2 linked regions of the Homo sapiens genome follow. The protein of the gene in region 1 interacts with the protein of each later gene in a pairwise test. Each region holds a gene or a part of one and is shown on either strand. Other genes may lie near its edges. The genes, in order: MTFR2 and MAGEA12.

What was found.
Region 2: the proteins of MTFR2 (region 1) and MAGEA12 interact in binary tests that used the Homo sapiens proteins (3 or more experiments, as listed by UniProt).

Annotation. Positions count from the first base shown.
Region 1 is NC_000006.12:136,248,109-136,252,024, forward strand, and holds the start of MTFR2 (mitochondrial fission regulator 2), read right to left. Parts: upstream 2,204-3,916; 5' UTR 1,868-2,203; intron 1,046-1,867; 5' UTR 992-1,045; coding exon 929-991; intron 1-928. UniProt on the Homo sapiens protein: May play a role in mitochondrial aerobic respiration essentially in the testis. Can also promote mitochondrial fission.
Region 2 is NC_000023.11:152,732,079-152,735,994, reverse strand, and holds the start of MAGEA12 (melanoma-associated antigen 12), read right to left. Parts: upstream 2,239-3,916; 5' UTR 2,136-2,238; intron 2,134-2,135; exon of another isoform or gene 1,961-2,133; intron 848-1,960; 5' UTR 742-847; intron 1-741. Other genes in the region: CSAG1 (chondrosarcoma-associated gene 1 protein), read left to right, coding at 3,535-3,550. UniProt on the Homo sapiens protein: Not known, though may play a role tumor transformation or progression. In vitro promotes cell viability in melanoma cell lines.

The sequences.
Region 1 (3,916 bases):
AATTCACCCCACCCGTCTTCCTTACAATCTCATATTACAGTTATCTTTATTGTTTCTTATTCCTCATATTTTAAGCATTATGAATACAACCATGTATTACTCCTCTGTATTACCTGCAGAAACAAGCATATTGTCTTAGATACAGCAGATTTTCAACAAGTAGATAAAATTTGATTTGCTTATGATATGGTTTGGCTGTGTCCCCACCCAAATCTCACCTTGAATTGTAATTATCCTCACGTGTCAAGGGTGGGGCCAGGTGAAGATAACTGAATCATGGGGGCAGCTTCTCCCATACTATGCTCGTGGTAGTGAATAAGTCTCATGAGATGTGATGGTTTTATAAACAGGAGTTCCCCTGCACAAGCTCTCTTGCCTGCCACCATGTAAAATGTGACTTTGCTACTCATTTGCCTTCAGCAATGATTGTGAGGCCTCCCCAGCCATGTGGAACTGTGAGTCAATTAAACCTCTTTCCTTTATAAATTACCCAGTCTCCGGTATGTCTTTATTAGCAGCATGAGAACAGACTAATACAGCTTATAATTCTCAGGCCTAAATCATCCTCTTTCCATTAGATTTATTCTGGATTTATTGAGCTTTAAATATTGAACTTGTTTATAAATTACCTTGAATAGAAGTTTTAATGTATCTGTGCAATAAATGTAATTCTGTGAAGCTCATGTCTATATTTTGCTTCCTTTGTATCTTCTGTTGGCATTTGTCCTATCAGGTAAATATGTTCTCAATAATCTTATCCCTCTTCTAACTCAAATCATCAAAGCTATACTATTACAAACTCACCTTTGTTCCAACTAAAAAGAAGCAACAACTTTGCCTTAAATCAAATGATTACATATAAGTCATTTTCAAAATGAAACCCAAGAACAAATACAACAGATCCATTCCAATCCAAAACGACATTTACCTGTTCTACAGGAACGCCAAAATATTCCAGCATCTCTCTTAAGATATTCAGTATGAGAGACATTGATGAAGCAAATACAGAAGCCAATTCAAAGGAACATTATCAGTTTCTTGGTGCCTTTGGGGAAAATTTTAGAAAATGTTACTCTTGACAAATAAATGCCAAATTGTACTACATAACCTGGAAAAGTCCTCTTGATACACGACACAGTCAACTAATTTCTCCTAGCCAGCATTCTTTTAAGTCAGAGAAAAAGAAAGGAAGGGGAAGTCTGGGGGAAAGAGAGGGTTGTAAAGGAAATTTCAATTAATTGGTTAGATTACATTAAAACCTCGTAGGATGTTTGAGCCTAGTTAATAGAGACCAATCAACAAACTGGACATCTACTTAGTAGGCAAGGCTTCAAGTTACATGCCACAGCGAAGCTCGCTCTTTCCTGAAAGCTTTGGGCTGAGACTCTTAGCAGATGGGTGAGTTTAGCCAACCCTTGAAAGCAGGCAAGGGACGACTCAGTTTTTAAAAAAATAAACAGTAGCTCTTCTCACACACATATCCTCACGTGTCAAGGGTGGGGCCAGGTGAAGATAACTGAATCATGGGGGCAGCTTCCCCCATACTATGCTCGTGGTAGTGAATAAGTCTCATGAGATGTGATGGTTTTATCAACAGGAGTTCCCCTGCACAAGCCCTCTTGCCTGCCACCATGTAAAATGTGACTTTGCTACTCATTTGCCTTCAGCAATGATTGTGAGGCCTCCCCAGCCATGTGGAATGCCCATCCCTCCTCACTCTTTTAAAATGAGAAGCATGAATTCCAGATACGGGACGTGACTTGGTCACCCATCTAGTAACAGGCCGTGACCAGAGCCGGATCGCGTCCCTCGCTTTGGTCACAAGCTTCCTGGTGCTCTCCAAACACAGCGTGGTAGCCTTGCTCACCTTCCTCCGAAGCCGAGCCCCCGGGAATCACCAGAACATCAAGCGGAGGGCGTTAGGAATCCTCAATCAAATTCCAGACTGCGCCACTCCTTGTGCAGATCGCTCAGACGTCTACCCAGACCTCGACCCAGTTTCCACCCGCGCGCCTCGGCTTGCAGCCACAGGCGGTAACGATGCCCTCAGCGAGGAATAAGAGGTCAACCCGGTGCCCAGCCCTGGAGCCTCACGCTCAGCCAGGGTAATGTTATGGGAAGCGCGCCCCCGTCCTCCTGCGCCCAACCAACCCACCTGCTAGTCCCTAGGACCGGACTGCTACTTCCGCATGACAGGACTGCTACTTCCGCATCCCAGGACGAAATCAAACTCCGCGGGCCAGGACCCGTAACCAGCCTCATTGGGCAAAACTGAAGATCGCTGCTTCTGATTGGTCATTGCATGATGTCAGGCAATTCGGGAAGCGACTGCTTTTCCTTCTCAAGAGGCGGGTCTTCCGAGAGTCAGCCAATAGGAGCTGACGGGCAGGGCAGGTCGCGTTAGGACAGCGTCGCTCCCGCAGGGCAAGGTTTTAGGTACAAACTCGTGAGCTGGACTCGCAGTCCGGAGTTCGTACCCCACAGAACTCTTCGCAGGGAGTGTCTTACTCGCTACAGCCGGACCCTAAGCGCATCCGCCTTCCCAAGTTCATCTGACACAAAATCGCGATTTATTTTTTGGTCATTTCATTTGTTCAGCTAATATTAAAATACTTGTGGAACTGGCAGAAGCCAAGCACTACCCCCGAGGGTTTTGCAGCTTTGCAGTGGCTAGGATTCATTCTTTCGTTCACTAAATACACCTACGTATCCAGGCTACCGAATATTGGGCCGGACACTCTCCTGGCTTAGCCGAGGATGGCAAGTGATATGACAGGTGATATCCCAGTTTTCATTTCTGATTTGAGGTTATTGGCTTCATACGAAATAGCTTCCTCTTCTGAATTTCAGCAAGACGTGCACTGGAGTGATATAACAATTTAAGATGTGTGCCTGCTACTGACATAATTTGAAAATCTAAGTTTTGAACTAATTTATCTATGGTCAACATCACTTATTCATTCAACCAATAATAGATATCTACTACGTAGCAGACACCATTCTAAGCACGGAAAATACCTTAATGAGAGGGCAGGTCCTCGTCCTCCTGGAGCTTACAGGCCAGCGGGGCATCTCGTTCCATTCTAACCCTAATTTGCTTTTCTCTATAGCACTTATCATATATATTTAGTTACGCTTCCACTACCACCAAACAAAATTGTAGACTCCAGGAGAACAGGAAGTTGTTTTGATCCATGCTCTATCTTTCCCCAGTGCTTTAGAAGAGTGTCTGGTATATAATAGGCATTCAGTCTATTTGTTGAATAAAATACCTAAATGTGGAATGACAGAAAAGATGATAATGATTTGGGACTAAGCAACTAGCAAAACAATTGATAGCAATAATAGTGATATGCCCAGTAGAGCTGGATACGGCTGAGTGAGCGCAGAACAAGGATGATGATGGATCAGAAACCCTAGATGGAGTAATTTTCTCAAGTTCCTTGTCCTTCCCTTTGCCCTTGTGAATAAATCACGACTTTATAACCCCCTCCCTTTCCCACTCTCTTATCAAACAGCAAACAGACAGGGCCAGAATGAAAACATCCCTCCAGAATGAGAACGGAACCACTACTCTTCCAGCTGCACTATTAACATAGGTTAATATTCCAACTGATTTAAGTAGCAAGGAGGACCCAGGTCAAATACTACATCCATAAATGCTTTGCTGACAACTTTCTTCTAAATTCTTCAGAGATATTTCTTCCAGTTTACTAAAGCATTCATAATTCCATTTTGACAAAAACATTTTATGTGATTGGACATCTTTTTCCATTGCTCATTTTTACACGAAATTAGATTTTCCTGAACTCTTAGAATGAGATAGGGTCCAAGAAAGCTTTTCTGACATCACAAAGCTAGCTTTTCTGTTGTCTCTGAGTAGTGTTCAAAAATATAGTGGCTTGCTTTCTGGAGT
Region 2 (3,916 bases), on another chromosome or scaffold:
CTCTGGAGTCCCATGTGTTCTGGGGCCGGTGCGGCCCTTGGTGTGCATTCAAGGCAAACCTTCAGTGTTGGCACTGTCTGCACCCCCTCTGCTCTGTGACCTCAGGACACTGCCTCAGACCAAGGCCTCACTGCCTTGTTCTTGGAACTCCTGATTCCTGGGAGAGGAATCCATGGGCCTCAGGGTGCAGACTGCAAGTACAGCCACAGATTCCCAAAATTGTCAGGAGGGTCGGCCAGACTCTGTGAGGTCCCCACTCTACTGGGGTGGAGGGTCCCTTCTGTGCTCACTCAGGGCCCTCACCTTTCTCCTTGCAGGGCCTAATACCGCCCTTTTGCTGGCCAAAGAAACTCTCATGGCAAGAATTCACATCCCTGATACGGTACAGAAGGACATGAGGGGACCAACATCTGGCCATACATAACCAGATCCTCCCACAAAGGACAATGAGAGATGTCCAAATTCATTGGAGTCCAGGTGTCCTGGGTGACGAGCCTGCTTGGTCCTCACCACTACTCCTGCTAGGGCCTGAGAGCCTCCCTCTACTGACCTGAGTGCAGCCCCTTCAGACCAAGGCCTCCCTTTCCCTGACATCAAAGATCCCAGGATAATGGAGGGACCTCAGCAGGTAGCCTTGCCCAGGCTCTCTGAGGGAATAGCAGGGGCAGGGCAGATTTCTGTGGGGCCCTCTGTCAGCGTTCTGGCCCAGGGGTACCCTCAATCCTACCTCAGGCTTCTCACCTGGATGCTTGGTAGATCTTAGGACCACTGTGTCTGTCGACTACATGGGGGCCCCTGTGTTGACCTGAGTCACCCTCTGAAGAAAAGGTCCTCAACTCCCTGAGATCTGGAAACAGAAGTGAGGAGGAGCCACATCCTGTCACTCCCAGGTAGGTTGTCCAGGGCTGACCCCTTTGGTTCTAGGGTGAGGCTTCTGATGGCCTCCTGTGGGTTACTCATCTTTACTCCTGCCAGGGACTGCCCTTCCTCAACCCCCAACCCCCTGAAATGAGCAGACAGCTCCTCTTTACACCAACACCTTATCTCCCTGAGGGTTCCCCAACCTCTTGCCTGTGGTACAAATGACATTGCCAATTGGAGCTATCTCTGATCGGGTTCCCTTAGAGCTAAGAATAAGGGACAGCCAGACTCTGTGGCATCCCTTCTTTCTGGGCCGGGGGTATCCCCAGTCCTCATGAAGGGGGCACACCTTGGGTCCGGCAGATCCTGGGATTCCTCCCTCTGCTGACCTGAAGTGCCACTCCTCAGACCACAGCCCGCAAATCTGTCACCCTGAAGTCGCAATGAGCATGGGGCACATTAGGCCACTGTGCCCAGGATCCCCCAGCCCAAGGTTGCCACTGATCTGGACTCCAAGGTCCCCTCAGTCCTCCCTCTTCTTCCTCCCCTTGACTCCTCGCAGGGCTGGGCTCCAACTCCCTGCTGAAGTGGGTCTGTATCCCTAGGATTCCCGCGGCCGAATGAAAAGGTGGCTCAGTTTGAGACAGGGGTACTTTGGGCCCCTGTCCTGGCATGCTGGGAGCCCTCCGGACTCCATTATCTTCCAGGAGGGGCTTGGGCCCATCCTCTGCTTCCCAAAGGCCGTACTCACGATACCGACCCCCTTCCCTCCCTGAGCCACAGATGTGAACGTCAGGATCCGCGTGCTTGGCCGCCATTCCCGGAGCTTCCGTGGGTTGATTGCAGGGGCAAAGCTCCGATTCTGCCAGGATGGGTGGGGATGGGAATCGGGGTTTGGGGGTCCCGTTGATGTTTGAGCGATGGTGGTGGGTTTGGTGTTGGGGGATGGGGGTGGGGTTGGTGTTGGGGGATGGGAATGGTGGTGGGGGTGCGGGGGGTTACCCTCAGTCCCCTCTTGGGGTCCTGACCTTGATTCCTGGCTGAGTCTGGGCCCTGAGCACTTCTAACCAGCCCTGCCCTGGTCACACAAAGCTCTTACACCAGAGTTCCCTGCGGTTAAAGCGGCGGGGGGTGGCGGGGTGAGGTGGTGGCGACTCAGCCTGAGAAGTCTTCCCCTGCAGGGTGGTCCAGGCCCGGCAGCAGAGGCAGCGCTGGATTATTGGGGGCCCTCTGTCTGGGGTGAGGCCCGCCTCAGTCCTCCCTCGGCATCTTACCTTGCCTCCTCACGGAGCCTGCGCCTGCTTCCCTCCACCGACGTCAGGCCGTTGCTCAGGGCGAGAATCTCGCTGTTCTCTGACCTCCAACGCGCAAGTCAGTGGCGTCACATCCGGCCCCGTGACTTCCCTGGGTTCACAGCAGGGGTGGAACTGGATTCTTCCTGGATGGGGATCCAGATGGAGGTGGAGGTAAGCATGAAGATGGTGTTGGGGGTAGGGGTAGGGATAGGGACGGGGATCCTGAGGCTGTAGATCCTGGTGGGGTTGGGGGAGTTGGGGGTGGGAGGGGCCTTTGGTCATCCCTCAAGGTCCTGACTTGGATGCCAGGCTGAGCCTGGACCGCCATCCTCTGCCGATTGTGTCTGCTCCCCTCAGACCAAGTCTCTGACTCTGAGTCCCCCTGAAGTGGCACTGGGGGAGGGGTGTGGTCGGGGTGACATTATTGCCTAAGTTTACCAGGGCTGACAAGAGGGACTGAGCTGGATTCTGTGGTCCCACTACGTGGGGGAGGGTGGACCCTCAGTCCTCACTCAAGAGGGTCCTCTTCCTCACTCCTGGCTGTTGGATGAAGTGATTGGCAGGAGATACTCTGTTTCTGTAACGTCTGTGCATTTGCACAGCTGCACCCCTTGTAGAGAATGGCTGCGGGTCCCAGGCCAGGAGCTCCCTGCAGGGCGGGAGCTCCCACGATCGTATTGACCTCTGGAAGAAGACAGACACTTTCCCACGGGAGCTCCTCTCCAGCCAGAGCTACACTTGGCAAACCTTTGGTCCTAAATGATTTATTCACTGAATTGAAGAAATACGGTTTACATATCTTCCAAGTATATATGTAGGTAGCGATATATATATTTATTTCTACGAACTAACACCTACCCTTAGTATGCATCGTTCACTCTTACTATCCTAATCTACTTCTATTCCAGTCTTTGTGTTCTGTTGAAGGAATTTTTTTTTAAACGTAATTCCTCTCCCACTATGTTGGTTTCAGGTTGTTATTAGCAGAACTCTGGAGCCATGCTGCCTTAACAAACCCAATTTTCCTGGTGTCCTGCTATTACCTAGGGCTCTTGGCATCGTGTTTTCAGGAGCTGCCTCAGATTGTGCAATGAAGTGAAGTGGAAATTTTAAAACTTTTATTCTACCCATTCTGTTATCTGCCGTCTAGGCAGGCTACAAACCTCCCCAACATCCCTGCCGCTAACCCCCTCTAACCGACACGGCAAGTGTCACACACAAGTACCAGCTCAACAAGGTCTTCAGTCTCACCCTGGACTGGCCCTGTTTTGTTGTGTAGATTTTCTTGCTAATACTGGTTTTTTACTTTCTGTTTCCATTCTATAAATTTACAGGGTTGATTTGGGAAGCAGAGCACAGCAGCCCAAATTTGCTTGTAATGTCGGCGACTACAGGTAAGGCACTAAATTGTAAATAATTTAAGCTGAGTTTACATTTTTACACTGTTGTGTTCCCCATGAATGAATATGTTATACTCCTCTATGTATGTCAAGCTATTTTTTCCTGAATATGTCAGTATACTTCGATAGTTGCCTCTATAAGCAGCTTATACATTTTTATTAGACTTCTATTCAGGTAATTCTTGGATTTTATTGCTATTGCAAATGGCATATTGTCTATTAATTGCTGTAGTTAGTTATTGCTTTCGTGAGGTGAAGATTTTGATTTTGCTGTAGTAATCTGTTGCACACCTCATTCTGAAGGCCGATGCACTTGAATATTCCACATGCCTTTTCCTTTGAATTTTCAAGATCGATAAT